Regions from separate parts of the Homo sapiens genome. Here regions 2 and 3 are each linked to region 1. The links come from fine-mapping of genetic effects on gene expression. A gene starts in region 1. Each other region holds a variant in brackets. All regions are shown on one strand. Distances are between the middles of the regions. Region 1 holds the start of ITIH2 (inter-alpha-trypsin inhibitor heavy chain 2). Region 2 overlaps KIN (Kin17 DNA and RNA binding protein). Region 3 overlaps TAF3 (TATA-box binding protein associated factor 3).

Evidence for each region. PIP is the estimated chance that this variant, and not a neighbour inherited with it, causes the effect.
Region 2: its variant is fine-mapped to the expression of ITIH2 in tibial nerve (GTEx, PIP above 0.99).
Region 3: its variant is fine-mapped to the expression of ITIH2 in tibial nerve (GTEx, PIP above 0.99).

What each region holds. Positions count from the first base shown.
Region 1 is chr10:7,701,066-7,706,065 of GRCh38, forward strand. It overlaps ITIH2 (inter-alpha-trypsin inhibitor heavy chain 2), which reads left to right and starts at 2,251. Exons shown (of 21, transcript NM_002216.3): 1 at 2,251-2,453; 2 at 4,043-4,117. The coding sequence starts at 2,370.
Region 2 is chr10:7,752,212-7,757,555 of GRCh38, forward strand. KIN (Kin17 DNA and RNA binding protein) reads right to left here. Exons shown (of 13, transcript NM_012311.4): 13 at 1-3,931. The coding sequence ends at 3,869. Among named protein-coding and RNA genes, the nearest start is that of KIN, 33 kb to the right of the region's middle. The variant A/G (reference allele first, on the strand shown) is at 3,256.
Region 3 is chr10:7,832,432-7,837,775 of GRCh38, forward strand. All of the region lies in intron 2 of TAF3 (TATA-box binding protein associated factor 3), which reads left to right. Among named protein-coding and RNA genes, the nearest start is that of TAF3, 17 kb to the left of the region's middle. The variant A/G (reference allele first, on the strand shown) is at 2,551.

The sequences.
Region 1 (5,000 bases):
GAGGGGTTGGCAGTGGGGTGGGGAGTGCAAGGGGAAAGGGTCTCAGGTTCAAGACTCAGTAGCCTGAATACACAGCCTACGCGGTCGTGCTTCTGAACATTGAGAGAGAGAGCAAATGTTGTTTTGTTTTGTTTTGTTTTCAAGAATTTGGGATCAGGCTGAGCACAGTGGCTCACGCCTATAATCCCAACACTTTGGGAGGCTGAGGCAGGTGGATTACTCGAGGTCAGGAGTTTGAGACCAGCCTGACCAATATGGTGAAACCCCATCTTTACTTTAAAAAAAATAATACAAAGTTAGTTGTGGTGGTGCACGCCCGTAATTCCAGCTACTTGGGAGGTTCAGGCAGGGGAATCGCGTGAACCTGGGAGGTGGAGGTTGCAGTAAGCCAAGATCATGCCATTGCGCTTGAGTCTGAGCCACAGAGTGACGCTCCCTCTCAAAAAAAAAAAAAAAAAAGGACTTTGGGATCTGAAGACAGAGTATCAGCATGGAAAAAAGTCCAGCCTGCTTTTGGTTTGGTTTATTCTGAGATAATTCTGAATATCAGATTAAAATAATCAGAAAGGAAATGATCAATGGAAGGAGGTATGATTTTGAAAGTCACTGCTGTTTTTGGGAGAACATGCCATTGGGTTTTTTATTATTTATTTATTTTTTTCTTTTGAGACCAAGTCTTGCCCTGTTGCCCAGGTGGAATGCAGTGGCGTGATCTCAGCTCACTCTAACCTCCGCCTCCCCAGTTCAAGCAATTCTCATGCCTCAGCCTCCCAAGTAGCTGGGATTACAGGCGCATGCCACCACACCTGGCTAATTTTTGTATTTTTAGTAGAGACGGGGTTGCACTATGTTGGCCAGGCTGGTCTCAAACTCCTGACCTCAGGTCATCCACCCGCCTCAGTCTCCCAAAGTGCTGGGATTACAAGTGTGAGCCACCGCGCCCAGCTGCCATTGGGTCTTAATTCTCCAGAAACAGTATCTCAGTCAAGAATGCAAAGCTGTGGCAGGATTTTTCCATGAGGGGTCCACTGAGGCACTCACTGGCCAAGGTGGGCGCTCAACTAGTCCAACCTAGGCAAGGGAGGGGAGAATCTGTTTTCTCCCTTCCATTATTTCAGAAGTTATGTTTCTCCAGCAGACACACGGCTGTGCAATTTCGAAGACTGAGGGGAAACTAGGGAGGAAAATGCAGAAAACTCTCTGTTGCATGCCCTGTGAATTGGGCTTTAAATGTAGCAAGGAGCTCCAGGATCCCAGAAGTTGGCCTGGGGTGCTTGGTCCTGAGGATAAGACAACCTCCCTTGTATTGTAATTCTGCCCACAGCTGGAGCTTCCTATTTCAGTGTTGCATCCAAGAAGTTACATTTCCTGTTTGTTGCAAGAAAAATAGAATCTGACCAGGATGGAGGCTAGGCATGGGGGCTCACATCTGGAATCCCAGCAGTTTCGGAGGCTGAGGCAAGCAGATAGCTTGAGCCCAGGTGTTCAAGACCAGGATGAGCAACATGATGAAATCCCATCTCTACAAAAAATAGCCAGGCAGTGTAGTGCACACCTGTAGTCCAGCTACTCTGGAGGCTGAGGTGGGCAGATTGCTTGAGCCGGGGGAAGTTGAGGCTGCAATGAGCTTTGATCTCACCACTGCACTCCAATTCTGAGACTGGGGAGTATTGATTTGCCACTGACCTGAGCCCGGCTGATAGGGGCAGCAGGACAGACACTGTTACCTTAATCAAAGACATTCACGAAGCATTCTCACTGAAGATCTGCCCTAGTATCCTGCACAGCCACTTGCCTGGGTCTTTATAGGTAACAGGTAGACAGTCATCAAAGAGATAGGGGAAAACATGCACAATGAATTCTTTGCTCAGAAAAACCCTTCTGTGTCTTCTCCCACTTTTTCTAAATTTTTCCTGCTTTCATTTAGATCAAAGGATTTTGTTTCTTGGAATAGTTCTGCACTTGGTCCTTTAGAAAGGATGACAATTATCTGTAGGTCTCTCTGATTTTAAGATCAATAGAAATCAGCAAAAGCCAAAAAATAAAAAATAAAAATAAAATAAAAGCACACAAGCACATTCAAGCACATCCATCTGCCCCTGACTTGTCCTCACAGTAAGCAACTGCTTCTGACTTTGCTGTTTGAATAACCTCTGGGTGTTCGATCCACCCACACAGCTCAAGTTTGAGCTCCAGAACAAATATTTGTCCCAATTTTGAACAAAGTTAGAGAGTTTTTTCTTCTTTTTTCTTCTTTCTTAAAGCGAACTGTACTCCTCTGCTGTTCCTTTGAACTTGGTTCAGTAGGAAGAAGTGATATCCTCCCCAGACCATCTGCTTTGGGGAGCTTGGCAAAACTGTCCAGCAAAATGAAAAGACTCACGTGCTTTTTCATCTGCTTCTTTCTTTCTGAAGTATCAGGCTTCGAAATCCCCATAAATGGACTTTCTGAAGTAAGTACTTACAGATCACTCCTTGCTGTTGGCTTGTTCATGAGCTCAGTAAATCATCTATTGGAATCGCTATTCAATGGCCTTATTCTGTGTGTAATGGAAACTTAAGATAAAATTCATCTGAGTGCAAGTGTTTACTGTTATAATTACTGGAATGTATATTTACCTTTTAAAGCATTAACAGGTTTTGCATGAAAATTAAGTCAAGATCAATGGGCAGGCATCAGAGCGTAGCATTTATGGAGCAGAGCTGCTCACTCCTCACCTAAAAAATTGGGGGTAAGAATAGACCTAACCCAATGGTTTGCTTTGAGAATTAAATGACACAGTGTAAACTCTTCTAGCAGAGCGCCTGGACTAGTAAGTGCTTAATAATTACTAGCTGTTATGATGATGAAGAAATATTATCACTCTTTTACTAAGAGTATAAGAAAAGTCATTATCAAAGCACACTGTTTTTCATATCTAAGTGAACAGTGATATTTGTAATAAGAGCACTTTAAGTATTCCTATTAAAGCGGAAGATAGCAGGCAGGGTGGAAAAGTACAAGAATAATTCCCATGGAGTACAGGTCTCCACTTTTGTCCCTTAGCCATCTCCAATGTAAGGAAAGTCTTGGACTGAAAGTCTGTTTCTGAAAGTCATACAAGAGCTATTTTTATGCCAGAAAAGCGAAGCATGTTATGGGAACATCCCAGCAAATGCAAAGGCTTATAATACTTGCAGAGTGGATTACCTATAAAAATGCCAGAGAATATGACGGCATATTTACAAAGGGAAAATATCACTCTGTCTGCTTTGAAACTATCATATTTTCCAACACTTAAAAGCCACCAGAGTGTGTTAGAAATCTCAAATTGAAGCCAAGACATCCAAATGTGTTTGTGCTTTTTCAGTCATTTCTAACTGGCATTTCCTTTTAGAAAATACCTACATTTTTAACTTGGGGAGATGTATGGTTCATGTCTGTCCAGTCAGACACTGCAAATGCCTCCAGGGTCTACCCAGATACTTCCCCAGACACCCACCTAATCACTGGGTTGTTTTGATCTCTGTCTTACCACCTGCTGGCAAACTCAAAAATGAATTCCCATGTCCAACAAATGCGAAGGTGTTGTTACCCTCCATTTGGACACCTCTGAGACGTAACCAGCAAATAGAAATATACTAAAGAAATCATTTTATACAAAATTGTGATTGCCCAGAGGTAGAGGAAAGAATATAAAATAATGAATACCAACAGCTATCTCTTTGGCTCTAGATCTTTTGGAAATCATCATTCTCAGCAAAGTAACACAAGAAGGGAAAACCCAACACCGCATGTTCTCACTCATAAGTGGGAGTCGAACAACGAGAACACATGGACACAGGAAGGGGAACATCACACACTGGGGCCTGTCAGGGGGTGGGGGGCTAGGGGAGGGATAGCATTAGGAGAAATACCTGACGTAAATGATGAGTTAATGGGTGTAGCAAACCAACATGGCACATGTATACCTATGTAACAAATCTGCACGTTGTGCACATGTACCCCAGAACTTACAGTATAATTAAAAAAAAAAAAGTTAAAATCCTAATTTTTTTTAAGTTTGTAGACTATGAAGATCTTGTGGAACTGGCCCCAGGCAAATTTCAATTGGTGGCAGAGAACCGGAGATATCAGGTATAGTAAGGTTTACTCCCAAAAGGGGGAAAAAAAGTGAAAGAGATTATGGCAGAAGAAGACAAGTGTTAAGATGCCTTCTGCTAGATTTTCTTAAGAGTTTGTTTTTTAGCACAGAAGAGTCCAGACTTCTTACACCTTGGTGGAAGAGATCACCCAGGTGAAATAAAAAGAGAAACTCACACAACTGCTCAGCAGCCTTCACACCATAATGCTCAATTTAGTCCCTTAAAGAGTACACGACTCAGCACAGTGGCTCCCACTTATAATCACAGCATTTTCAGAGGCCAAGGAGGGAGGATCACTTGAGGCCAGGAGTTCCAGATCAGCCTGGGTAACATAGTGAGGCTCTACCTCTGCCACCCAGCTAATATATATATTAGCTGGCATGCACCTGTAATCCCAGCTATTTGAGAAGCTGAGATGGAGGATCACTTGAACCCAAGAGTTCGAGGCTGCAGTGAGCTATGATTGCACCAGCCTGGGCAACAGAGGGAGACGCTGTCCCCACTCCATTTAAAAAAAAAAAAAAAAAAAAGAATACATGGCTATGTGTTTTCTTCAAAACTTAAGATTCCGAAATTATTTCCTGCCTTGCCGGAAGGATTTCCTGTTAGGAAGACTTTTCTTATTTTAGCGATGACAGACACTCCCCCTTGCAGCCTCACAATCTCCTTCCTCTGGTCACTCTGAGGGCACCTGAGAAGGAGAATTGGCCACATTGGAAGTTGCAATCCTGGCGGCCACCAGCAGCAGTATAGACAAAACCCTCTAATTAAGGGGGTGAGTTTTCCAGAACACCAGGAAGGGCTTGGCTTCTTCCCCACGGAGCCCACATGCTGAGAGAGGAGGTATTTACGGAAGCAGCAACCCTAAGCTGATC
Region 2 (5,344 bases), 51 kb after region 1:
CTTAAAATTCAACAATAAGAAAATGAGTAACCCAATTAAATAATGGGCAAAAAACCTGAAAGACATCTCACCAGAGAAGATATACAGGTGGCAAATAAGCCCATGAAAAGATGCTCCACATCATACTTCATCAAAGAAATGCAAATTAAAGCAATGACAAGATCCCACTGTACAGCTATTAAGATGGCCAAAATCCAGAACACTGACAACATCAAATGCTGACGGAGATGCAGAGCAGCAGGAACTCTCATTCACTGCTCGTTTGAATACAAAATGGTACAGTCACTCTGGAAGACAGGTTGGTAGTTTCTCAGAAGACTCCTGGCATATGATCCAGCAATTGTGCTCTTTGGTCGTTACGTAAATAAGTTGAAAACGTCTATCCACAAAAAACCTGCGCACAGATGTTTGTAGCAGCTTTACTCATAATTTCCAAACCTTGTAAGCAACCAAGATATCCTTCAGTAGGTGAGTGCATAAACTGTGGTGCATTCAGACAATAGAATATGCAGTGCTAAAATGAAGTGCGCTATCGAGCCACAAAAACCTAACCAAAACAACATGGAGGAACCTTACATGCATATGTTCTACCAGGTGAAAGAAGCCAATCTGAAAAAGCTACACCCTGTGTGACTCCAACTATATGACCTTCGATGGAGACAAAACTAGGGAGACAGTAAAAAGATCAGCGGTCAGCAGGGATTTGGGGGGAGACAGGGAACAGACAGAACACAGGAAACTTCTAGGGCAGTGAAACTGTTCTGTGTGATACTACAGTGGCAGATGCATGTCATTATACATTTGTCAAAACCCACAGAGACTGCTCTAAAAAGTAAAGTCTATGTTTGAAATAAAGAAAAATAGCTTATGATACTTCAAAAATCAAAGTCTAATATGAGACCTGTTGTTAGTTATCTGCAGTCATTTTGCTTAGCATAAACTCTATCAAGTTCTACAGACTCAGAGGGAAAAAACTACTGTGAAGTCTATAATCGTATTTTTATGCTTCAGATATTTTTTATTGAATTTAACCTCAAGTATGCTGCCTCATTTCATTCTGAAATAATTTCAGAAAGACGTTGGAGAATTAAATGTGGGAGGCAGACATGAAACATTTTTTCTCTGAAGAAAACCACCAAGTTGATTCCAAACGTACATACTTGGGGGAGGCATATGTAATTTGTCTGGTTTTACTCATCACTATTTGTTATCAGGGAGAACCATTCTCCTTTTTGAAATTCTTCAGACCAGATTCTTAGTAGTCCAGGCTCAACTTCTTGGCTTCATTTCTGGACATGACCACTCACTGCCATTTATTCAATACCTACTATGTGCTGGACTTCATGTCTGATGATTTATATGTATTTTCTGTAGGTCTCCCATCAACCCTGCTGAAAAACATTTTGACAATTTATACATTAAAAACATTGCAATTCAAGAACATTAACATTCTAATATTACAAAGCCAATGAACAGAACTGCCAGAATTTGATCTAAAGACTGCCCACACCCAAAACCCAGTTGCTTTCCATAATGTGCTGTCAGGTTACTTTGGAAAAACCTTAATTCATCCCTGAGGAACATTTTCTGTAAAGCTTCTGCCATCATCCTATTAGTATTTCTTTACTGCCTCTTACATTTCTGCTAACAGCATACGTTCTCCCATCTTCTGAGAATAGAAGCAATCAGCCCTCCCTGACTCTCAGTTAAAGAGAGAGATCCCAGGGTTTGGCACCATACCTGTGTCTGACGTCAGCTTATACCCATCCTCATGTTTGAAGTGATCATCCTGGTATGGTCTGTTTTTTGTTTGAACTCTTGTAGAAGATCAACTCAGGCAAGGCGTGGTAGCTCACACCTGTAATCACAACATTTTAGAAGGCCGAGGCAGGAGGATTGCTTGAGCTCAAGAGTTTGAGACCAGCCTGGGCAACATAGCAAGACCTCATCTCTACTAAAAATCAAAAAAATTAGCCAGGCATGGTAGTGCATGCCTGTAGTCCCAGCTACTCGGGAGGCTGAGGTGGGAGAATCAATGACCTAAGCCCAGGAGGACGAGGCTGCAGTGAGCCATGATTGTGCCACTGCACTCCAGGCTGGATGACAGAGCAAGACCCTATCTCAAAAAACAGAACAAAAAAAAAGAGGCGTAGTGGCTCATGCCTGTAATCCCAGCACTTTGGGAGGCTGAGGCGGGCAGATCATAAGGTCAAGAGATCGAGACCATCCTGGCCAACATGGTGAAACCTCATCTCTTCTAAAATTACAAAAATTAGCTGGGCGTGGTGGCGCATGCCTGTAGTCCCAGCTACTCAGGAGGCTGAGGCAGGAGAATGGCTTGAACCCGGGAGGTGGAGGTTGCAGTGAGCCGAGATTGCACTACTGCAATCAGCCTGGGTGACAGAGTGAGACTCTGTGTCAGAAAAAAAAAAAAAAAGAAAAAGAAAAGATAGATCATCTCTCTCTTCCCGGTGCTGCTGAAGGGTAAGATGTAAACCTAGAGTGCTCAAGAATGTAAATGTAGAGAGCCAGCACAGGAGCCAGAGACAGAGCGGAAGCCCAGGGAAGGCTGTTCACACCCGGTCCCGCTGCCCTGGAAGCTAGCGTCTGCTCCTTTCAGTCATGTGCACTACAAATATCCCTTCGTTTTTCCTTTGGCACAGGCAAATGTGGGTTTCCTGTCTTTTGCATTCCCTAATAATACACTGCCCTACTTATTTCAAACTGTATGGTTAGGCAGGGTGCTGTGGCTCACACCTGCAATCCTAGCACTTTGGGAGGCTGAGGCAGGAGGATCACTTGAGCCCAGGAGTTTGACAGCAGCCTGGGCAACACAGTGAGACCATGTCTCTAAAAGTAAAAAAATTAAAAACAAATAAAACTATAGTTCAACATTGCTGGTAGGACTGTAAAATGGTATAGCTGCTCTGGAAGAGTTTGGCAGAAGCGAAAGCTTCTGTTCACATAAAATCCTGTAAATGGGTGATCATGGCAGCATTATTCACAATAGCCAAAAAGTAGAAACAATCTAAATGTTTATCAGCTGATGAATGGACAAACAAAATACGGTACATCCATACAGTGGAATATTAAGCAGCCATAAAAACAAATGAAGCACGCCTACATGCTACTGCATGGATAAACCTTGAAAACATGATGCTAAGTGTAAGAAGCCAGTCATAAAAGATCACATATTATATGATTCCATTTATAAGAAATGTCCAGAAAGGGCAAATCCATAGAGACAGAAAGTAC[A/G]TTAGTGGCTGTCTAGGGCTAGGGCAGAGGGGAAAAATAGCGATTGACTATTAAAGGGTTTCATTTTGGGGTATGAAAGTGTTTTAAAATCAGACAGTGGTGATGGCTGCACAATTCTGCAAAAATACTAAAAACCACTGAATTGTATGTATATTTTAAATGAGTGAACTGTATGGTATATGAATTATTACCACAATAAAGCTGCTTCTATATTTATAGTTTGACATTTAAAATTTAGTCACACTTAGAGTTCAACTTTACTACTCTACTACTGAAAATATAGAGTGTATGAAGGATTTCCTCCAATTACATGATTCTAAATTGTCATAGATAAAACACTTTATAATAACATTCTTTAATGAAGATATAAACTCATCAAGTAAATTACAAAGGAAACAAAAATAACAAGGACAAAATTACATAGTTTGATACCTCATGAGACATAATTAAATTCTTCTCAAAGTTTAGCTGAACAACTATACAGTAATATTTTCAAAAACCTGTTTGTTTTATACAAAAGAATATACCCTAACACAGTAGAGTCTCATAATGCCTTGGCGAACACCAATTTGATGCTTTAAGATTTTAATGTATTGTTAACAAATTTTCAAACTCAGGCAAGTTTAGAAATGTCTTCATATTGAATTCCTTCAACTCTGCGTCCTTTTAAAGGGCCCTACAAATTAAAATAATTTAAAATAAGGTTAAAAACACATATTCCTAAAAGACAAAAAAATGACACCATACTTATGGATACAAATTTGCCTTTTCCGCATCCCTAAAATACCATTAAGATTGTTAACATTTGTATACATCTATGAATTTTAAGAATAATCTATGGCATTCTCATTAAGAACTACCATATTTTCTTCTGTGACATCTGACATACGTTATCAATAGACATTGTGGCAGAGACCTGCAAGCTGTTCAGTATCTCCTCTGCTTCCTGGATAAATAGCCAGTTTCCTGGCTCCCTTGTGGTTAGCTGTGGCCATGCATGGAGCTCCAGCCCATGAAAGCAAACAGAAGTGACGGTCCAGACGTGCTATAACTGACACACAATCTGCCAAGCTCCTTTTGCCTGCCCAGTGCACACAGACATGGCAACTGGAGATGCCACTTGAGGGCAGTAGAGGCACTAGCTGGAAGGACCCTGGGTTCACAAATCGCCACTTAGAAAGAGTTCCCTGATCAAAAATACCCATTTGGGGTTTTTAGAGTGAAACGTTAACTTCTACCATGTTTGTGCCATTGTCCATTTGGGGTTTTCTTTTTTTTATAGGAAATATCATTTTGTAAGCATTACGATACTCAAACATGTTTGTCTAGGTTGGCTGTGATAGTTACACTGGTCCAGATTATAAAAAGAGTCCAACTTTAACTTTATTTTCTTCTTTCATATCGAACAAAAAGGGAAAGAGGAAAACTTAATTAATGAAAGATATTTTCTATCACAAAAGCGGATATAACCTGGGAACACAGAGGCTAAGAATATGGGCTGTGAACCTACACTCCCCAAGTTCAAATCTCACTTTCAACAATTGATTTAACCTCTCTGTCCTTCAGTTTCCTCTCTGTGCCTTATTATCTCCCAGTGGAAATAATGGTAATGTCTGTATGATTGGGTTGTTGGGAAATATAAATGAGTTATTTCATATAAAGTGACTAGACCTGGAACTTAATATGAGTGAGAGCTCAATAATTTTCAACTCTAATTATTATTTAATCTTTTGTTTAAAATTTGAGAGTTGGGTCGGGCGCAGTGCTCACATCTGTAATCCCAGCACTTTGGGAGGCCGAGGCAGGTGGATCACCTGAGGTCAGGAGTTTGAGACCAGCCTGACCAACATAGTGAAACCCTATCTCTACTAAAAATATAAAAATTAGCTGGGCATGGTGGCACACACCTGTAATCCCAGCTACTTGGGAGGCTGGAGCAGAAGAATTTCTTGAACCCGGAGGCAGAGGTTGCAGTGAGCTGAGATCGCGCCATTGCACTCCAGCCTGGGCGACAGAGTGAGACTCTGTCTTGAAAATAAATAATAAAATAAAATAAAATTAAATTAAATAAAATTAAAATTAAATTTGA
Region 3 (5,344 bases), 130 kb after region 1:
TATAAATATTTATGGAGTACATAAGAATTTTAATAAAAGCACACCACAATGTGTAGTAATTACATCAGACTAAATTGGATATTTACCACCTGAAGCATTTATCATTTCTTTCTTATTTATTTATTTATTTTTGAGACAGTCTCGCACTGTCACCCAGGCTGGAGTGCAGTGGTGTGATCTCAGCTCACTGCAAGCTCCATCTCCTAGGTTCAAGTTTAAGTGATTCTTGTGCCCCACCCTCCCCAGTAGTTGGGATTACAGGTGCCCACCACCACACCCGGCTAATTTTTGTGTTTTTAGTAGAGATGCGATTTCACCATGTTGGCCAGGCTGGTCTGAAACCCCTGGCCTCAAGTGATCTGCCCACCTCAGCCTCCCAAAGTGCTGGGATTACAGGCATGAGCCACTGCACCTGGCCCAGCATTTATCATTTCTTTGTGCTACAGATATTCCAGTTATACTCTTTTAGTTATTTTTAAATGTACAGGGTGCAGTAGCTCACACTTGTAATCTTGTCACTTTGGGAGTCTGAGGCAGGAGGATGATTTGAGGCCAGGAGTTCGAGATAAAATGTTCAATAAATTATTGTTGACTTTAGTCACCCTGTGGTGCTATTAAAGGCTGAATAGTATTCTGTGGTGTATATATATTACATTTTCTTTATCCACTCATCTGTTAATGGACACTTAGGTTATTTCTGTAACTTGGCTATTGGGAACAGTGCTGCAGTGAACTTGGGAGAGCAGAATCTCTTCCACATAATCTTTTCAAATCTTTTGGGTAAATACTCAGGAGTGGGGTTGCTGGATTATATGGTAATTCTATTTTGAGTTTTTGGAGGAAACTCCACATAGTTTTCCATGACTACTAATCTAAATTCCCACCAACAGTGTACAAGGATTCCCCCTTTTCTCCACATCCCTGCTAACACTTGTTACCTTTCATCTTTTTTATAGCAGCCATTCTAACAGGTGTGAGGTAATATCTCACTGTGGTTTTATTTCTGTAATGATTAGTAATGTTGAACATTTTTTCATGTATTTGTTGGCAGTTTGTATGTCTTATTTTGAGGAATGTCTATTCATTTTTTATTGGATTATTTCTTTCTGTAGGGTTTTCTTTTTTCCTTTTTTGGGGACCCAGCAATACTGCTGATTTATTACAAGTCCCCAAGAGGGCTTCAGTTTTTCTTTTCAACATCCTGTTCTGTAGCTTCCATGTCTCTTTTTGTCCATATGTGGAGGAGCCAGGCATTGGCACGGGCCATGCAGCAACTAGCAAAGGCTCTGAAATTCTTCTCCTCAGTGGTGACTTGAGCTTTCTCCTTCTCATAGACATTCTGGATGGGCATGACTGGTCCTGTCAGCTGGGTGGCCAATTGCAGTTCTTCAGCAGAACTGTCTCCCTTCCTGGGGACCGAGGGCTTCCTGGGGAAGAGGATGAGTTTGGAGCGGTACCCCTTCAGCCGCTGCACAGTGCGTGTGGAAGTGGGGCTTCAAGATCTTGCCATTCCCGCTGGGCACCATGGCTGCCTGCTGTCCTCCGGCACAGGACAACAGCCAGACTGTTCTTTCTATAGAGTTGTTTGGGTTCCTTATATATTTTGCCTTTTTTTTTGGTGGTGGTTGTGGCTCTTGTTGTTGTTGAGTTGCTTACATGTTTTGGGCGTGAGCCCCTTGTCAGATGTGTGGGTGCACGTGTTTTCCTCCTCACCCACAGGTTGTGCCTTCACTCTGCTGTTTCCTTTATTGTGCCAAAGCTTTTTATTTTGATGGAATCCCATTTGTTCAGTTTTGCTTTTGTCACCCTGCGCTTTTGGGGCCAAATATAAAAAATAATTGCCCAGACCAGTGTCTTACAGTTTTTCCCCTATGTTTTCTTTTAGCAGTTTTGTAGTTTCAAGTCTTACATTTAGGTCTTTATTCCATTTTGAGTTGATTTTTCTAAGTGGTATGAGATAAGGATCCAATTTCATTCTTCTGCATATGGATATCCAGTTGTCTCCACGCTGGGAAATAGCATTTCAAGTACACAGTCTCGGTGCTAAGGGATACTTATTATATATAACTCGGTTGTTCATTGTTTCTAGGCAATAAGTAAATAAATATTTATATACATGTAGATGTGTGTGAATAGATAGATAGGTGGATAGGGTTCCTCCTGAGTTCATGCAGATTTTCCAATTCATATTTAGGACTACAAGGTTTTTATTTTTTATGTTACATCCATAAATACTGTCATCCATACTGAGAATTCTGGTTCTCAGGAATAAAGAAGATGATAAAATTAGAATATTCCATAATTATTCATTTGCTTTATCCCAGATTACACGTACAATATTGCAACTGATACTATCATTCATGATTACTGAAACAGGTAAAAAAAATTTTTTTTGCTCATTCTGTCCTATGAAACCAATTTTCTTTCATTTTACCGTGTGTATCTTGTCAGATCATATAGCTACTGTCTTGAGTTCTGCTACCTAATTTCTGAGTTTTTTCTGATTTTGATTTATATACTTTCATGTCTTTTAGATCATTTCAAGATAGA[A/G]CATTATAGGTTCATCAGTTTTTTCGAGTGTGTGTTTCTCTCGTACTTTCATTGTCTGGAGGGATGTTTTGCTATTTAGTCTTCTCTTCTTTATAGAAACTATATGTGAGTTAGTTTTCTGAGCCTTTAGAACACAGGTGTCCAATCTTTTGGCTTCCCTGGGTCACACTGGAAGAAGAAGGATTGTCTTTGGCCACACATAAAATACACTAACACCATCGATAGCTGCTGAGCTAGAAAAAAAAGTCACACACAAAAAAGTCATAATGTTTTAAGAAAGTTTACAACTTTGTGTTGGGCTGCATTCAAAGCCGTCCTGGGCCGCATATGGCCCATGGGCTGTGGGTTGACAAGCTTGCTTTAGAAGGAGATTCAGGGTAGCTCCTCTGACTTTGCAGTGCTCCCTCTTCTATCGTTTTTGCGGAATGTTCCAAATATGGGAACTTGCTCACTGAGATTTTTTGTTTGTTTTCCTCCACCACTTTTACCTGGATCTTCTCTTCCCTTCATGTCAGTTTTCCTTTTTCTGGCCAGCTGTGATTCCACTGCCAGCTGTGTCCTCTCAGCGAGGCTCTGTCCTGGCAGAGAGCAGCCAGGGTCAAGTCTGAGAGCTCCTGGGCTCAACTTCTAGCCCCATTGGATCTCACTCAGCCCCTTGTACTCCCTGTACTGGAAGTGGTCCCATCCTTCCCAGCCTCAGCCGCTCTTCTCGGGTTGGCCTGCCGGGCTTTCCAGCAGAGGCCTGGTGGCCCTTTTGGGGTTTTCCTGTTTCAGGTCAGTCTTCCCGTTGCTTCTCACTGTTTCCCTTGCATAGATGCCTCATACTCGGGTCTCATGGCGCTTGGTGGCATGTTGTCACCTGCATGTATTTTGGCACTGATGGGTGTACTCTGTCACCTGGTTATGTTGGGAAGATGCACAAACTACCTTGCCCCAGCTACCACTTTCTTCCCAGGATTCCCCTTATTGAAGCTTTTTGCTGCTTTCATCACTGTTGGGCAATTCCTGAAGCTGCTTTTCTTCAGCGCCATCATACTCCCTTAACTCTCCTTATATGATGAGCTCCATCTTGGGGCCTTTCTTGGGCACGTCTTCCCTGGCTCTCCTACTGCTAAAACATTGGTGCTTCTAAAATTTTATCCTTCACCTACTATGTTTCTCACGTTACTTAGTTTCAGAGTTGACTTTCCTACTCTCATAGTTTGAACCCCCATCTGTATGCTGATGCCTCCCCAAACTGTCCCTCTACATCCACCTCTCAGACCCTGCAACCAGTTGCAGTTGGCCATTTCCACGTTTTCTTTTTTCTTTCTTTTTTTTTTTTTTGAGACGGAGTTTCGCTCTTGTTGCCCAGGCTGGAGTACAATGGCACAACCTCCGGCTCCCTGGTTCAAGTGATTCTCCTGTCTCAGCCTCCCGAGTACCTGGGATTAGAGGCATGAGCTACCAAGCCCAGCTAATTTTGTATTTTCAGTAGAGACGGGGTTTCTCCATGTTGGTCAAACTGGTCTTGAACTCCCGACCTTGGGTGATCTGCCCACCTTGGCCTCCCAAAGTGCTGGGATTACAGGCGTGAGCCACTGCACCCGGCCCATTTCCACATTTTCTTACCACGAATACACCTGTGTTATCCATCTCAGTTGGTGGCACCATCTCTACTCAGTCACCTAAGCTAGAAACATGAGAATTAGCATTGACCTCTTCTCTCATTCTCCTTCATTCCCTATCTCTAATTCTGCTAATTTTCTTTCTTAAAAAATTTCCAAAATATTATTGCATCACTTCCTTTGTTTAAACCTTTATCTCTTGTCTGAACTGTCCTTATCCTCTAAACGAAACTATTAGACAAAAAATTAACACATCCCACATTATAAAACACTTTGTTGGCTCTCCAACTGCTTACAGTTACCAAAAATACCTATGGAGAGGAGTTTTCTTTTTTGCATCAAAATGAAAAGAGCTTTGGTTGAGTGTGATGGCTCATGCCTATAATCCCAGCACTTGGGAGGCCAAGGCAGGAGGATCGTTTGAGCCCAGGAATTTGAGACCAGCCTGGACAACATAGTGAGACCTTGTTTCTATAAAAAATTTAAAAATCTGGCCAGGCGTGGTGGCTCACACCTGTGATCCCAGCACTTTGGGAGGCCAAGGTGGGCAAATTGCTTGAAGTCAGGAGTTCAAGACCAGCCTGGCCAACAGGGTGAAATCCTGTCTCTACTAAAAATACAAAATTTAGCTGGACATGGTGGCATGGGCCTGTAGTCCCAGCTACTCGGGAGGCTGAGGCAGGAGAATTGCTTGAACCAGGGAGGTGGAGGTTGCAGTGAGCCGAGATTGCACCACTGTGCTCCAGTCTGGGCAAAAAAAAAAAAAAAAGTCAGCTGGGTGTGGTGGCTCATGCCTGTAATTTCAGCACTTTGAGAGGTTGAGGCGGGCTGATCACTTGAGGCCAGGAGTTCAAGACCAGCTTGGCCAGCATGGCGAAACCTCGTCTCTACTAAAAATACAAAAATTAGCTGGGCGTGGTGGTGCGTGCCTGTAATCTCATCTACTCGGGTGGCTGAGGCACAAGATTTGCTTGAACCTGGGAGGCAGAGGTTGCAGTGATCTGAGATTGCACCAGTGTACTCCAGCCTGGGCAAAAGAGCAAGACTCTGTCTCAGAAAAAATAAAAAATAAAACAATTAGCCAAGAGTGGTGATGTAAGCCTGAGAGGCTGAGGTGGTGTAAGTACTCAGAGGCTGAGGTAGGGGGATCACTTGAGTCTGGGAGGTTGAGGCTGAGGCTGCAGTGA